Linked DNA regions of Homo sapiens: region 1 is linked to region 2. Evidence: fine-mapped expression QTL. Tissue or cell type: whole blood. Region 2 holds a variant in brackets; the other region holds the start of a gene. All regions are shown on one strand. Distances are from middle to middle.

What was found. PIP is the estimated chance that this variant, and not a neighbour inherited with it, causes the effect.
Region 1: AAK1 starts here. The variant in region 2 is fine-mapped to the expression of AAK1 in whole blood (TOPMed, PIP above 0.99).

What each region holds. Positions count from the first base shown.
Region 1 is chr2:69,641,196-69,648,152 of GRCh38, reverse strand. AAK1 (AP2 associated kinase 1) reads left to right here and starts at 4,414. Exons shown (of 22, transcript NM_014911.5): 1 at 4,414-4,578; 2 at 4,879-5,275. The coding sequence starts at 5,113. It also overlaps a transcript of ANXA4 not described here. RefSeq lists enhancers at 2,628-3,230, 3,986-4,255 and a silencer at 4,336-4,665.
Region 2 is chr2:69,696,682-69,705,109 of GRCh38, reverse strand. It overlaps a transcript of ANXA4 not described here. Among named protein-coding and RNA genes, the nearest start is that of ANXA4, 41 kb to the left of the region's middle. The variant C/A (reference allele first, on the strand shown) is at 3,834.

The sequences.
Region 1 (6,957 bases), 56 kb after region 2:
TTAAATACCCAACATAGTGCTTGACTCAGTTAAGGATTTTAATTAATGGTGGTCCCCTTTCCTTTGATTTCCTCAAAGATACAGCACACTGGGTTTATGGTAACATGATTTAGGTGTACCACAGGTCAAATCATTTCCTTCAAACTTAACAAACCATACATGTTCATCTGCTACTAACAAAATCTTCATTGTTCATCTATAAAATTGGGAATAATAGTGTAACAGTATTTTCTTTGATAAAATAGATAATACTGTCTACTTTGTAGGCAACCATGAAGATTAAATAAAATAATATCAGTCAGGCACGGTGGCTCACATCTGTAATCTCAGCACTTTGGGAGGCTGAGGTGGGAGGATCACCTGAGTCCAGGAGTTTGAGGTCAGCCTGGGCAACAAAGCAAGACCCCATCTCTATTTTTTATATAATTATTTTTTTTAAAAAGTGGCTGGGCGTGGTGGCTCATGCCTGTAATCCCAGCATTTTGGGAGGCCAAGGTGGGTGGATGGCCTGAGCTCAGGAGTTCAAGACCACCCTGGGCAACATGGTGAAACCCTGTCTCTACTAAAATACAAAAAATTAGCCAGGCATGGTGGCACACACCTGTAGTCCCCGCTACTCGGGAGGCTGAGGCACAAGAATCGCTGGAGCCTGGGAGGCAGAGGTTGCAGTGAGACGAGATCACGCCACTGCACTACAACTTGAGCTACAGAGTGAGACTCTGTCTCAAAAAATAAATAAATAAATAAATAAATAAATAAATAAAATAAAAATAAAACAATAAAACAATATATATATATTTTTTAAATTCCATAACTGGCATATGGAAGATACATAGTGTTAACTGAAGAATCCCAAGGTTTATAAATTTGGAGAGGGGAGCTTTACTTTTTATAAAGGGTTGCAGCCTGCAGGCTGGTGATCCTGACAGGCTGGGAAGTGTAGACTCTGGCAGAGACTGAAAGCAGGTATTTAGAGGGAGGAAAAAGTGGAACACAAATTTATGCCAAATGAGTTGGCTAAGAATACACACTTAAGTTACAGGAGCTTTGATTATTCACAAAGCGGGGGGCAGCACATGCATGCATAGTGAGCAAACATGCATGTTACATATGTCCTATGTTCTCTTTGGGGTGGAGATTTAACATTTAAATGCATTACAATTAGGTGAAGCAAAGGACATGAAGACACTCAGTGCACAGCCTCTGAAAACCAGCCAGAACCAGTCTGTGGTTGGTAGTCTCTTACTAGGATGTTACTGAAATCAGTCTCTTGTCCAATCAAAGAAATAGTTATGGTTTGTGGAACAGGGGTTGGGGGGATACAGTTAGTCAGCATCTAGTGGTCAGTGAGCTACAATTGATTCAATATTGCTTATCTCCAGGCCAGTGTCTATTTAGCTACCAGAGAAAAAGAAAAACCTTGTGGCAGTTAGAAGATGGTTTACTCTTCAAGTGTAGGGATGTGTGACTTAACCCTTGCCTGACACAGCCTTAGGTCTTGTTTATAATTTGGCATCTTATTGCCTCAAAGAGTCTGTTCCATCGGTCATATGATCACTATTGTAACAATAGTAAATGGCACTTTCTTTTCCCACTCCCTTTGACTATTTACCCATAGCATCTTCCACACCTAGTTCAAAATTCATCTAGGATACTTCAAATCAATCTTTCCACCTTAATCAGATAGCTCTGTTTTGTGTCACATTTAAAGTAAATTATTTACTTTAAGTACTGCTAAGAACACACTCTATGTAAACTATTATACTGGATGCCCAAGGAGATAAGTAGAAGATGGTTCTCTGGCTTTGAGGTGTTTGGTTGAGACAGCAATATACATTAAAAGTTGAACAGGAATGCAAAGCAGCATGGGACAAATTATACAGAAAGTGTGATAGTTTTGAGATTATAGTGGCTGATCTGTTCATTATTTTGTACTCAGGAACTAAAAAATTACTAAGAGTTGTAAGAGCTCTGGTTTTATAGCTGAGATAATAAGCCCAGTGACACAAGTGGTCTAGGATCCCAGCTATGAAGTGGCAAGAGGTTTCCTGTCTCCTGGTCCTATGCTGCTTGTGCGTGGGTTTCTAACTATTCACGAGTCTTTTAATCAGTTAATGTTTGCTCTCTCTAAGTAGACAGTTTAGTATAGCCAGGTAAGAACTGGGCTTTGAAACTAAAATGTTTGGGTTTGAATCCTGGCTTTGCTATTTACTGTGTGACTTTGGGCAAGTCACTAATCTCTTTGCTTTACTTACCCACCTATAAAATGAGTATAATAATGGTACTTTACTTCATAGGGTGGTTGTGAGCATTATATACTTAATATATGTAAAGCATGAAAAACTGTGGATTTGTCATTATAATTGCTATTAGTCTGTGAGGGAATGGAGGGCAAGGAATCTAGTCATGTTTTTTGTTTTTTAAACCTCTTCCCTCAGCTTCTGATCAGAGCATTCACGTGGGTGTTAAATAAATGCATGTTAGCTACCTTAAGCATATTGGGAGTTTTTGTATCACTGAAGTAAGACTTGAGATTTGTGTAAGCCTGGACTAGTCTGGTACCAGAGAAGTCTAGAAAGGTAAAAACTGAGATAGCATCAGATTGATTTTAGGACCTAGCACAGCTTGTTTAAAAAAGTCAGTCAAGACAAATAAGTGCTGAGAGAAATGGGGGTCAATGAGTCTAATTCCAAATGAGCTTTCTCATCTATTTTAAGATCTGCTTCAAACTTCCTCAGACAAAAATCTGGCCTTTTAAGGAAAGTGCAGAGAACATGCCTTCGTGGGCTTAGTTTGAGGGAATAGGGGCTGCATTTCACCCTGGAGGTGGCTACATGAATTCGTGAACTGAGGTGACAACACTGACTCTCTCCGGAAGAAAAGATGCTATCTCTTCACGGAGTTTAATTACAATGGCACTACTTGAAACAAGCTGCAGCAGCAGCAACAACAAACGCTACTGTTAACCCAGTCACAGCTCAGCTCAATATTCAGATTAGAGAAAGCAAGAACCATTTTTTTCCCTGGGACACCCTTCTCTACTCAAATACCCGCTGAAAAAAAAATTCTGAGACAAGCACTAGGGAGTGGGGAAAGCGGGCAGAGATGAACAATAACCCATATTCAGGGGTTAGAAAAATAATATTAATAAATCATGGTAGGTTTTTTTGTTTGTTTTTGGCAGCAACTTGCCACTCTTCAGCATCATCCATCAGGAAATCTAGGTCGGAAAAGTGTACCAACTGACCTTCCAAATTTTCTGCATTTGGCAGATGCAAATCACACAGTCCATCCCCGCCCTCAGCACTTGGACGGTATCAGGGAAACGTAAGTATCAATGGAAGAATCTTGAAGTGAAAAATAAATAACTGGTCAGGTTAGGGTTAGTGTTCTTGTGTGCAAGGGAGCTAGTGAAGTTTAGGCTTTGATGCGCACCCACAGCGTCAGCAAAGGAGGAGGAATTAAGGGACAGCATGGGCCGAAAAGCCCCCGAGTTTTGAGGTCAAGCCAACGGGCTGGGTCTCCGGTATCCTAGGATCTGCCCTGCACACAACCTTTGGCAGTTTCTCGGTTTGAATCTCGCCTGTACATTTCCAGACGAGACACTGTCTTACTGAGCGTTCTCACAGCGCCTAGCTCAGAGCTGACCGCAGAGCCGGCTCTCAATAACATCGAGACGCAAAAGCAGCTTTTGAGGTTAGGGGCGGAAGGGCATCGGTTTTACTTATTTCAAGGCTGGCGCTCGGTGCAGCCGGATCCAACTGCCAGCACAATGTTCCCGATCACTTCTCGCTTCCATTTCAGCCCAGGAGACGTCGGGAAACCCACAGGACCCGCTAGGGGCTAAGCGGTTAAGCCGCGTCCTTCAGGTGTCAGTCTCGATCCGTTCGGAAACCACAACCTCCAGAATCCCTTGTGCCAGGAGGCCAGGCCGCAAATAAGATGGCTCCAGAAGGGTGGAACATACAGCGGGGGGGGGGGGGGGGGAACTTAGTTGTTGGCAGTTTCTTCACGGGATGTGTTTAAATTGCCGAGTCCCCACATACGCGCCACCCCACAAATCTCCTTCGAGGCCGTGGAGGCCACACGGCTGCCGCCTCGCCCTCTCCTCCAGGAGTATGCTGGGATTTGTAGTCCAGCAGCCGGACTGTGCCGAGCTACCTTTCCCAGCTTGCCCTGCGGCTCGGGTGATATCAACAGTCTTTTCCAGAACTCTGTCTGCACTGAGACCCTCTTCCCCCAGTCCTCTTCTCGCGGTCGACTCCTTCCCATCCGTGGCGACAGAACGGCGGTTGCAGGAGAGGCCCCGGTCCCTCGCCGCGCCGCCCCGAGGGGCACTTCCGGCGGCGGTTCACTTCCTGGTTGGGTGGATGGAGCCGGGCGGGAGCGCGCGCGGGGGAGGGGCGGCGGGTCAGTCTCCGCCCGGCGCTCCCGGGATCAGCTGGCGGGCGGGCGGGAGCCGAGCGCGGCCCCGGCTCTCGCTGCAGCGCCGCCTCTTCTCTGCGTCGCAGGCCGGCCCGGCGGCCGTGACAATGTCGCGGGGCTGGTAGCAGGGCGCCGGCCGCCGAGCCGTCTCAAGTGGGTGCTGCCAGGATGCCGCCTCGAGGGGCGGCGGGGAGACCCGGGAGGAGCGGGAGGCAGTGCCCGGGAGGGTCGGCGCTGCCGGAGCAGCTCGGATCCCTCCTTTCTCCGAGCTCCCGGCTCGGGGGTCCCGGGTTCTGGGGCCGGGGTCGCGTTTTCAGCCCCACGGTTTTTCTCGCCGGGAAAATACATGAAGCGTTTCCCCAGGATGATGGCTTTTGCTCCCCCTAGGACTCAGCGGTTGAATTTTTAAGCGTGTTACTGATTCATCCTCTCTTTCTTCCTCTGTCATCACAGGTTTAAACTTACACGAATCGCTTTCTGGAGGAGGAGGGGACCCGCTGCGCGATTGACACGCATATTCCTATAGGCATCCTCCCTCAGCCCCCACCCCCACGGCCGGATTCGGGTGGCTCCTCTCCGAGGTGAAATCTGAGAAGAAATCCTTGGATCTCTTTTCTTAAAAAAAAAAAAAAAAAAAAAAAATCTAGAAACCATCGGTATTTTGCTTTGCTGCTCCCTATTCGCAAGATGAAGAAGTTTTTCGACTCCCGGCGAGAGCAGGGCGGCTCTGGCCTGGGCTCCGGCTCCAGCGGAGGAGGGGGCAGCACCTCGGGCCTGGGCAGTGGCTACATCGGAAGAGTCTTCGGCATCGGGCGACAGCAGGTCACAGTGGACGAGGTGTTGGCGGAAGGTACGGTGGGGCTCAATGCGCCGTAAATTAAAATCTTGTGCTGATGCGGCAATACTGTGGTTTCTAGTTGTTGCATGTATGAATGGGCTTTGACCAGTTGACCCTCCCTTCCCCCTTCACTTGCCCTGTGAGTCATTGTCCTTGAGAGATTTAAAATTGAGATTTGAAAGTGACTGGGCTTATGGGGGTGTGGGGAGGTTGCCGAAATTGTTTACGTTAGTGGCCTTTTATTTTTATTTTTTTAATATTGAGAAGCCAAATTTTGAGGATCACACAAGAAAACGTATGTGTGAAAGTGTAAAGCTTTATGCCAAAGGCAGGGTGATGGGCTTGTCATCCTCCTAAAACTTAAAATCTTGATGTGAAGGCTGAAGGGTGGGGGGACTTTTAAGAAGAGAGGGGTTTCTCCTTCTCCTACCCAACTTTCCCACTTCCATGAGCAGGCATTGGAAGGAAGAGAGGATTTTCGGAGAACGTGAACGTGTTTTTCCAAGGGCCAAGGCTCTTGGTGGATTTCACTAGTAGATTTGTTTCCTGACCCAACTGTAATCAGGTCCCCAGGTTATAGCAAAGATAACAGAAATTACATAAAACAAATGTGGTTATTTTGAACTCAGTCTAGTAGGCCCCTCTTCCTTCTCGCTTTAGGTTTTGTTTTTTGTTTTTTTAATCAAAAGAAAAATTACTTGAGAGTGGCTCTGATTTTGTTTTTTCGCTATCAGAGAGGATGTTATTTAGATCTGCTGCATAAATTCCCTCTGTGTTTCATCTGTGTGTCTATACTCACGTAGATATACATCTTGATTCCCCCAGGCTTTCGGGAAATCTTTGCATGTCTCTTTTGGTAACCTTAACCTCGACCTTCATAATTATGCCAGACTCATACTTTTCACAGCCCTTCGCCTGCCTAGTGTGCTTTTATTTTTAATAAAAGCAGCAATTTCCTTGGCATGAAGCAATTCAGACTGATTGGATGGGGCCAACCTGCTGTAGGTTGTGTTATAGACCGAGAGGGGTTGGAAGAAGGGAGAGGTCTCTCTTACTGCAACATGGTGATGGTAGGGAACAGTTTTATTAGCAAGGGAAGAGAGAAAGCTAAGAGGCCTCTTTAAAAAGGGGCCTTTTGCAAGCTAAAGTTGAAGCAAGGGTCCTGACCTGGGCCTGGGAAATGCTTACCATGGTGGATGTTGCGGGCTGGTGGGTGGGTTTGGAAGAGGAAGAAGCTGTGTTTGGCTCTCAGCTTGTGTAAGCACTGGATTCAGCAGGGCCCAGTTTTCTGGGAATAGAGTTGAAGTCTGTACTTTAAAAACATGATTTTTAAAAAAGATCTCTGACAGTTAATGTCCATGTGAAATTATTGCTCTTCCAATCTCAGTACTGTTCTAGCTGCGCTTTATCTGGGGCCAGAGTCACTGTCCCCTTGGATCTTTCCCGTGGACTTTGGTGCAGGCTAGGAGATGCTTCTGTGCCCGCTGCCAGATCCGCACCCTTGAGTCTGATCTGTCTCTTTCATCCCTGTGCCAAAGCCCTTAACTGCAGTGGGGTGGAGAAACAGTGAAAAGGAGAGTGTGTCAGAGAGAAATCAGGAGAAACGAAGGGCCACAGAACACTTTCCTCCCCTCTGAATGGCCTCTGCTGACCTTATAGCCCACGAGCGTTTTGTTCAGCTAGGATGTTGTCTC
Region 2 (8,428 bases):
CTCTCTATGTCACCCAGGCTGGTCTCAAATTCCTGGCCTCCAGTGATCCTCCTCCCTCAGCCTCCAAAAGTCCTGGAATTACAGGCCCATCAGTAACCTTTTAAAGTAAGATACTATACTTTAATAATGTTTTGGAAATCCTAACCAGTATGATTAAGTAAGAAAATAATTTAAGAGTTAAAATTACCTCTTGAGGTAAGGAGGATTTATTAATTTAAATGATATCAAATAATAACTAGAAACCTGACAAAAATAGGCCAAAAAGAAATGTTAGGAATCTGGGGGAGATTGCAAAAACAGCTACAATCTTTTGCAGCTCTTCTCAGAAATGAAGTATATTTCTTCACACTATGAGCTCAACCATGTGACTTTCTTTAGAACAATGGGACATTAGCAAACATGATGCAAGCAGAAACTTGAAAACTGTTTGTGTGTTAAGACTTGCCTTCTTTTACCATTTTAAGAGGCTGAGACCACTGCTCTGTGAATGAGCCTAGGTTAGCCCGCGGCATGATGAGAAACACACAGACTCTTCATCCCTGTTGCTCCAGCTGACACAGAACCAACTACCAGACATCTGAGTGAAGCCACTCTCGTCTATCGAGGCCAATTAAAGTGCCAGTTTTCTGCAGAAATAAACCGAGTTGGCCCAGACCAGAAAAACTGCCAGTTGACCCACAGAGTTGAGAAATAATGTTTCTTATTTTAAGACGCTAAGTATTGGGTGGTTTGTTTTGCCAGAAAAGCTAACAGAAATTATAAGAGAATTTTAGTAAAGTAGTTAGTTACTTTTTGTATAATTACTGTACAAAATGGCTCGTTAGAAAATATAATGAAAGAAAAGATCCCATTTAAATAGGAACACTATGATCAATTTATCTGAAAATAAACTTAACTAGAAATAGGCAGGACCATATAAAGAAAATATAAAATCTCTATTAAGGGGTATTATTTCTTGCTGTATTTAATCTATCAATTCAATGTGATCCCAATAAAAATATTTAAAAATTTCTTTTCAACATTTTACAAGATAATATTGGGGTCATCTGTAGAAATAAACAAGAAAGAATAGCCAAGAAGAAAATCTCAACAGAAAGATATTAGGGGAGGGGAGGCAGTTAGATTAAATATTTAAATACATTTTGAAGTTACAAGAATTAAAACATTTAAGCTGCGGGGGGGTGGCACGCACCTGTAGTCCTAGCTACCTGGGAGGCTGAGGTAGGAGGATGGCTTGAATCCAGCCTGAGCAACGTAGTAAGACTCCATCACTAAAATAAGTAAATAAGTGAAAAAAATAACCCAGTTTGATTCTAGCAGAGATTTAGATAGATAATGGAATAAAATAGGAAATCCAGAAATAAACTAAAATGAGAATTTAGTAGATGATAGTGGTGACATTTCTAATCCATGAGAGGAAAGATGAATTATTCAGAAAACAGTGTTGAGACTATGGCAGGACTATCTGGGAGAAAAAAAGAGTCAAGCTGTATAACTCCTCTTCTTTCATCAAAGTAAATTCCAGAAAGAGTATGATGTAAAATGTTAAAATGAGACTCTAAAAGTACTAGCAATAAAGAAGTCAGACACAAAAGGCCACATATTGTGATTCTATGTTTATGAAATGTCTTGGGAATCCATAGAGACAAAGTAGATTAGTGGTTGCCGGGGACTCGTGGGGACATGAAAATGGGAAGTGATCACTTAATGGGTGGAAGGTTTCTTTTGGGGGTGATGAAAAAAATGTAAAATTAGATAATGGCAAAGATTGCACAACTGTGAATATACTGAGATCACTGAATTGCATACTTTAAAAGGGTACATTTTATATGTGAATTATATTTTAATAACACTCTTATTAAAAAGAAAAAAAAAAAGGAAGCCAGAGGCGAAAGAGTCCATAGGGGGTTCTGACCCACACATGAGGTCAGGAAGGTTGTCTACAGAGGGAAAAGGAGGACAGGGTCTGAAAAGGGGTTTCATGGCAGCAGATGTTTTACAGGTGAGAAAGGGGGCAGGGAAATTAACTCTCTTGGCTCTGATTACCCTGTGACTCTGTGTCTTTCCAGAACTTAAGAACTTTGCATGCGCTGGACAATAATTTTGAATTTAATGAATGGTTTTTGAGTAAAATAAATGCTAGAAGAAAACATGGGCGAATTTATTTATAATACTGTTATGAAGACTTTGCAAACATGGCACAAAACCCAGAAATCATATAGAAAATGACTGATGTTTGCTTAGAAATGAACAGTTTTATATTTTAAAACCACATACATATGATTATAGTTTTATAGTTACGTTTTAAAAAAATTTTGTCTTTAGAGATACACGTTGAAAACACCTGTGGATGAAATGATGATGTCTGGGATCTGCTTCAAAATAATTTTTTATTAAGAGACAGGGTCTCACTCTGTCACCCAGGCTGGAGTACAGTGGTACAATCATAGCTCACTTAACCTCCAACTCTTGGGCTCAAGTGATTCTCCCTCCTCAGCCTCCCGAGTAGCTGAGACCACAGGTATACACCACCACACTCAGTTAATTTTTTTTAGAGATGAGGTCTCACTATATTGCCCAGGCTGGTCTCCAACTCCTGGCTTCAAGTGACCCACCCACCTCCGCCTCCCAAGTGCTGGGATTACAAGTGTGAGCCACCATGCCTGGCTCTCAAAATAATTTGAGGTGTGGTGGAGATTAAACTTGGTAATGGGTACACAGAGTACTCTTTTCTCTACTTTTTAAATATATTTGATTTATATATTTTGGATTTTTTCATAATAAAAAGTAAAAAATAGGCCAGGTGCAGTGGCTCACACCTGTAATCCCAGCAGTTTGGGAGGCTGAGGCAGGCGGATCATTTGAGGTCAGGAGTTCAACACCAGCCTGGCCAACATGGCAAAACCTATCTCTACTAAAAACACAAAAAAATGAGCCATGGGTGGTGGCGCACACCTGTAATCACAGCTGCTCAGGAGGCTGAGGCAGGAGAATTGCTTGAACCCAGGAGGTGGAGGTTGTAGTGAGCTGAGATCGCGCCACTGCATTCCAGCCTGGGTGACAGAGTGATACCCTGTCTCAAAAATATATATAAATAAAATAAAAAGTAAACAGCAAGAAGATCTGTGTACAAAGTAAAAAGATAAATAAGCTGGGAACAGGTATTTGCAACATAAGATATTAAAAGGGCTAATTTCTTAATTTATTAAGAACGCATACAAATTACTAAGAAAAAGAAAGCCCAAGAGAAAACAATGGGTAAAGATATCAACAGATGCAACAATAAAAAAAAAAGTCGCCAATAAATCTGTGAAACGGTGACCAGCCTTACTCATGCATGCAAAGGAAAACAATAACCAGATTCCTCTTCCATGGAGTAAACTGGCAGCATGAAGAGGCTGGATAGTAAGCAGGATTGGTGAGGGTGGGGGAAATGTGGCTGGACCTACTTGCTGTGGTGGGAATGAAGGTATCACCTTTTAGAAGGACAATTTCAGCATATCTGTCTGCAAATTTAAAATACATACCTCCATACAGTGAATATAATACTATTCAGCCTTAAAAGGAAGGAATTTCTGATACATGCTGTAACATGAATGAACCTTGAGGACGTTACGCTAAGTGAAATAAGCCAGTCACAAAAAGACAAATGATTCCGCTTTTACAAGGTAGCCAGAGTAGTCAAAATCATACAGATAGAAAATAGAATGGTGTTTGCTAGCGGGAGGGACACGGAGGGCAGTGGAGAGAATGGGGAGTTCATGTTGAATGGGTATAGAGTTTCAGTCCGAGATGAGGAAAAGAGTTCTGGAGATGGCTGGTGGTGAGGGTTG[C/A]ACAACAATATGAATGTACTTAAAACCACTCACCTGTACACTGAAAAAATGATTAAGATAGTAATTTTTAGGTGTCTTTTGCCACAGTTAAAAAAAAAATTAAGCCAGGCACAGTGGCTCACTCCTGTAATCCCCACAATTTGGGAGGCTGAGTTGGGCAGATCACTTGAGGTCAGGAGTTCGAGACCAGCCTGGCCAACATGGTGAAACCCCGTCTCCACTAAAAATACAAAAAAATTAGCCAGATGTGGTGGCGGGTGCCTGTAATCCCAGCTACTCAGGAGGCTGAGGCAGGAGAATTTCTTGAACCTGGGAGGCGGAGGTTGTAGTGAGCTGAGATCACACCACTGCACTCCAGCCTGGGTGACAGAGTGGGACTCTGTCTCAAAATCAGAAAAGAAAGAAAGAAATACATACATACCCCTTGACCAAGTGATTCCACTGCCAAACATTTACCTTAGGTTACACACAAAAAAATATGCCAAGTATGTTCATTTCTATAGCTGTAACAGCAAAATCTTCAAACAGCTTAAATGCCCAACAATGGTGAATTCACTAAATAATTATGTAATACCATATAGCACGCTACTCCGTAGAGATTTTGAAAAGGTGGTTTGAGCTCTGAGATATATGACTATGCAATCAAGGCAATAGCATGCCACAGAATGTGTACTGTACGACCCATGTGTACGCATTTCTAAAAGTGTGTGTTGTGTATGTATGTGATAAATTATGAGTCATTTCTATATAATTGTAAGATACTTTTCTGCAGTCATGAATACATTGTTAATAGTGAGAAGAGTACGGATGGTGGCAGTGATAGTAAGACTTTTTAAACCTTTTTGTAGTGCTTGGACTTTTTACTTTATTTGAATGTAATTATTTGTATTTATTTATTTAGAGACAGCCTTGATGTGTCACCCAAGCTGGAGTGCAGTGGTGCCATAGCTCACTGTAGCCTCCAACTCCTGGGCTCAAGAGATCCTCCCGCCTCAGCCTCCTGGGCAGCTGGGACTATAAGCATGCTTCACCACATCCGACATTTTTAATTTTTTAAGTTTAAAATAAAAATGTGATGTTTTGTATTCAGTCTGTGAGCTTCGTCGGTTTACAAGATGTGTTTCCATTTGGATGTTTTATCTAATCACTTTCTTTAAAAAAATTTACATTTCCTCATGCTGCTTTGTCTAAAATCGTAATGTTAAGTCTTATTTTTGTCTTTCTACACATTTCTTCAGTTTTTCCCTCTCTCCTTCCATTCTCTCTGGGTGCTCACTTTCCTGACTAACTTAACTGCCTGTGGCTATTATACACTGCATTGGGACGTCTTTGGAATGGCTGCCTTCCTGCTGGGGCGACTAAATTCCCTGGAGGTCGCCATCTTCAGACTTTTTATAGTACTCCTTGCATCTGGTACCTGCACAGCATGTGCTGAAAATTTTTTCTTGGTCATGATGGACCCTCTTCCCTTGAAAGCCTCAAAGCTGCAGTCTTGGATTCTTTGTTCCTGGCACCTCAACCTGCATCTTTTTATTACCCCTCAGGTTTTAGGAGTATCAAGTCCACCTCAAGTGGTAAGCCTAAATTTGTTTTTTTTCTGTTGTTGTTTGTTTCTTGTTTTTTGTTTTGTTTTGTTTTGTTTTTTGGGACAGGGTCTCACTGTCATCTAGGCTGGAACACAGTGGCATGATCATAGCTCACTGCAGCCTGGGCTCAAGGAATCCTCCCTCCTCAGTCTCCTGAGTAGCTGAGACTACGGGTTCACACCACCACGCCTGGCTTATTTATTTCTCATTTTCTCATAGAATGAGGTCTCACTATGTAGCCAGGGCTGGTCTTGAACTCCTGGGCTCAAGTGATCCTCCCACCTCAGTCTCCAAAGTGCTGGGATTACAGACATGAGCCACCACACCTGGCCCTAAGTTTCTTACTATGTGGGTGTCCTCTAACTTTTCACATGTGCTTTCCACATCTTTGATCTTTTAACTCCCTTCTCTGAGTGCACAAAATAGAGAAAAGAGCCCTGGAAGGTGGGGCCAGGAGACCAAAGTTTACCCTGGCTCTGCCACCAGTTTACTGAGTGGCTCTAGGCCCAGGTCCTCCTCTATGTCATGAACATGAGCGCTAGACCCCACCCCACACACTCCCACTGCCAGTGCTGGTGCTTGGCAAAGACCATCACATCCTCCTCTTTACCCATGATTCATATCTTCAGTTGTCCCCCCTCACCCGAATCTTTCCTTCAATCCATCAGCTTTTTAAGATATTAGTATAGTCTATTTTCCAGGCTTTGTTGTTTAGCTCTTGTTCCACTTTTCCTGCCTTATCCTCTTATATCCTTTTGATTCTTTCAATCAATATTCCAAAGCATAAAAATAAACCTAGTTTCTTTCTACTTCTTCTCCCTCTTCATTGAAATTACAACTCAAAACCACCACCCTCTTGCAGAGCTTTATGAATTAGTAGTTGTATCACCATCTTGAGAAGCAGAGACAAAGCTTGGTAGCGCAGAAAGGACACAAGCCTCAGAGTGACAAGGACCAGAATTGAATCCCCCTCATGATCGAGTCTCAGTTCCTTCATCTGCATAATGGAGACAGTAACAGTTCACACTTGCCCATCGCACAGTCCTGCCCCGCCCCACCTAGTCAGAGCCGACAACGCAGCTTGTCCCCAGGATCCATTCCTTCCATAGGTGACACTCCTGCCCCCAGGCCCTCTGGTCATCCTTCTCTGCCGCCCTAGGCTCCCACTATCTGCACCTCATGGCTGTCCCCACTCTGTTCTGGCCTTCTCAATGAATAAAAGCTCCCTGTGGAGAAACAACAGGGAGATGTCGGGGGAAGAGGCCAGCCAAGGAAATGGAGGGAGTTGAAGGGCAGTTTTTTAGCTCCATAAATTTCTGCGGGTGGGGGCTTCCTAGAAAGCTGGGCTTCATCTTCCATCTGCTATAGACTGAATGTTTGTGTCCCGCAAAATTCATAGGTTAAAATCCCAATCCTCAAGGTGATGGTATTAGGAGGCGGAACCTTTGGGAGGAAATTCATGAATGAGCAGAACCCTCATGAATGAGATTAGTGCTCGTATGAGAGAGACTCAGAAGAGCTTCCTTGCTCCTTCAGTCATGTGAGGACAGAGCAAGGTGATAACAACTATGAACCAGAAAGCAGGCCACATCAGACTCTGAATCTGCCAGTGCCTTGATCCTGGACTTCTCGGCCTCCAGATCTGTGAGAAATAAATTTCTGTTGTTTTTAAACCACTCAATCTATAGTATTCTTTTTTTTTTTTTTTTTTTGAGATGGGGTCTCACTGTGTTGCCCAGGCTAGCCTCAAACTCCTGGGCTTAAGAGATCCTCCCATCTCAGCCTTTCAAAGTGCTCAGGTTATAGGAATGAACCACTTTGCCCAGTCCCTGAGCCACCACACCTGGCCCCAGGTATCTTTGATGTTACCATTGTTAATGTTTAGGGCACCATAAACTGTGCCCATACAGAATAGCAAGCTTAATTAATAAATGTTATATACTGACTGCTCCACTGCTCAGACACAACAATATTGACATTAGGCCAATTAACAACCCTACGATGGCCTCTCAGTGTTCAAGTGAAAGGAAGAATCATGTGCATCTCTCATTTTTGAATCCGAAGCTAGAAATGATTAAGCTTAGTAAGCAAGGTGTGTCAAAAGCTGAGACAGGCCAAAAGCTAGGCTTCTTGTGCCAAACAGATAGCCAAGTTGTGAATGCAAAGGAAAAATTCTTGAAGGAAATTAAAAGTGCTACTCCAGTGAACACAAGTATGATAAGAAAGCGAAACAGCATTGATACGGAGAAAGTTTCAGTGAGCTGGATAGAAGATCAAACCAGCAACAACATTCCCTTCATCCAAAGCCTAGCCTAGAACAAGGCACTAAACTCTTTTCAATCCTGCGAAGGCTGGGAGACGTAAGGAAGCTGCAGAACAAAAGTCTGAGGCTAGCAGAGGTTGCTTCATGAGATTTAAGGCAAGAAGCCATCTCTATAACATAAAAGTGCAAGGTGAAGAGGCAAGTGCTGATGGAGAAGCTGCAGCAAGTTATCCAGAAGATCTAGCTAAGATCATAGATGAAGGTGGCTACACTGAACAATAGATTTTCGATGGAGATGAAACAGCCTTCTACTAGAAGAAGATGCCATCTAGGACTTTCGTAGCTAGAGAGAAGTCAATGCCTAGCTTCAAAGGACAGGCGACTCTCTTGTTAGGGACTAATGCAGCTGGTGACTTTAAGTTGAACATGGTGCTCATTTACCATTCTGGAAATCCTAGGACCCTTAAGTATTATGCTAAATCTACTCTGCCAGTGCTGTATAAATGGAGCAACAAAGCCTGGATGACAGCACATCTGTTTATAGCATGGTTTACTGAATAATTTAAGCCTGCTGTTGAGACTTACTACTCAAAAAATAAAAAAGATTCCTTTTTAATATATTACTGCTTCTTGACAATGCACCTAGTCACCCAAGAACTCTGATGGAGATGTACAAGGAGCTGAATGTTGTTTTCATGCCTGCTAACACAACATCCATTCTGTAGCCCATGGATCAAGGAGTGATT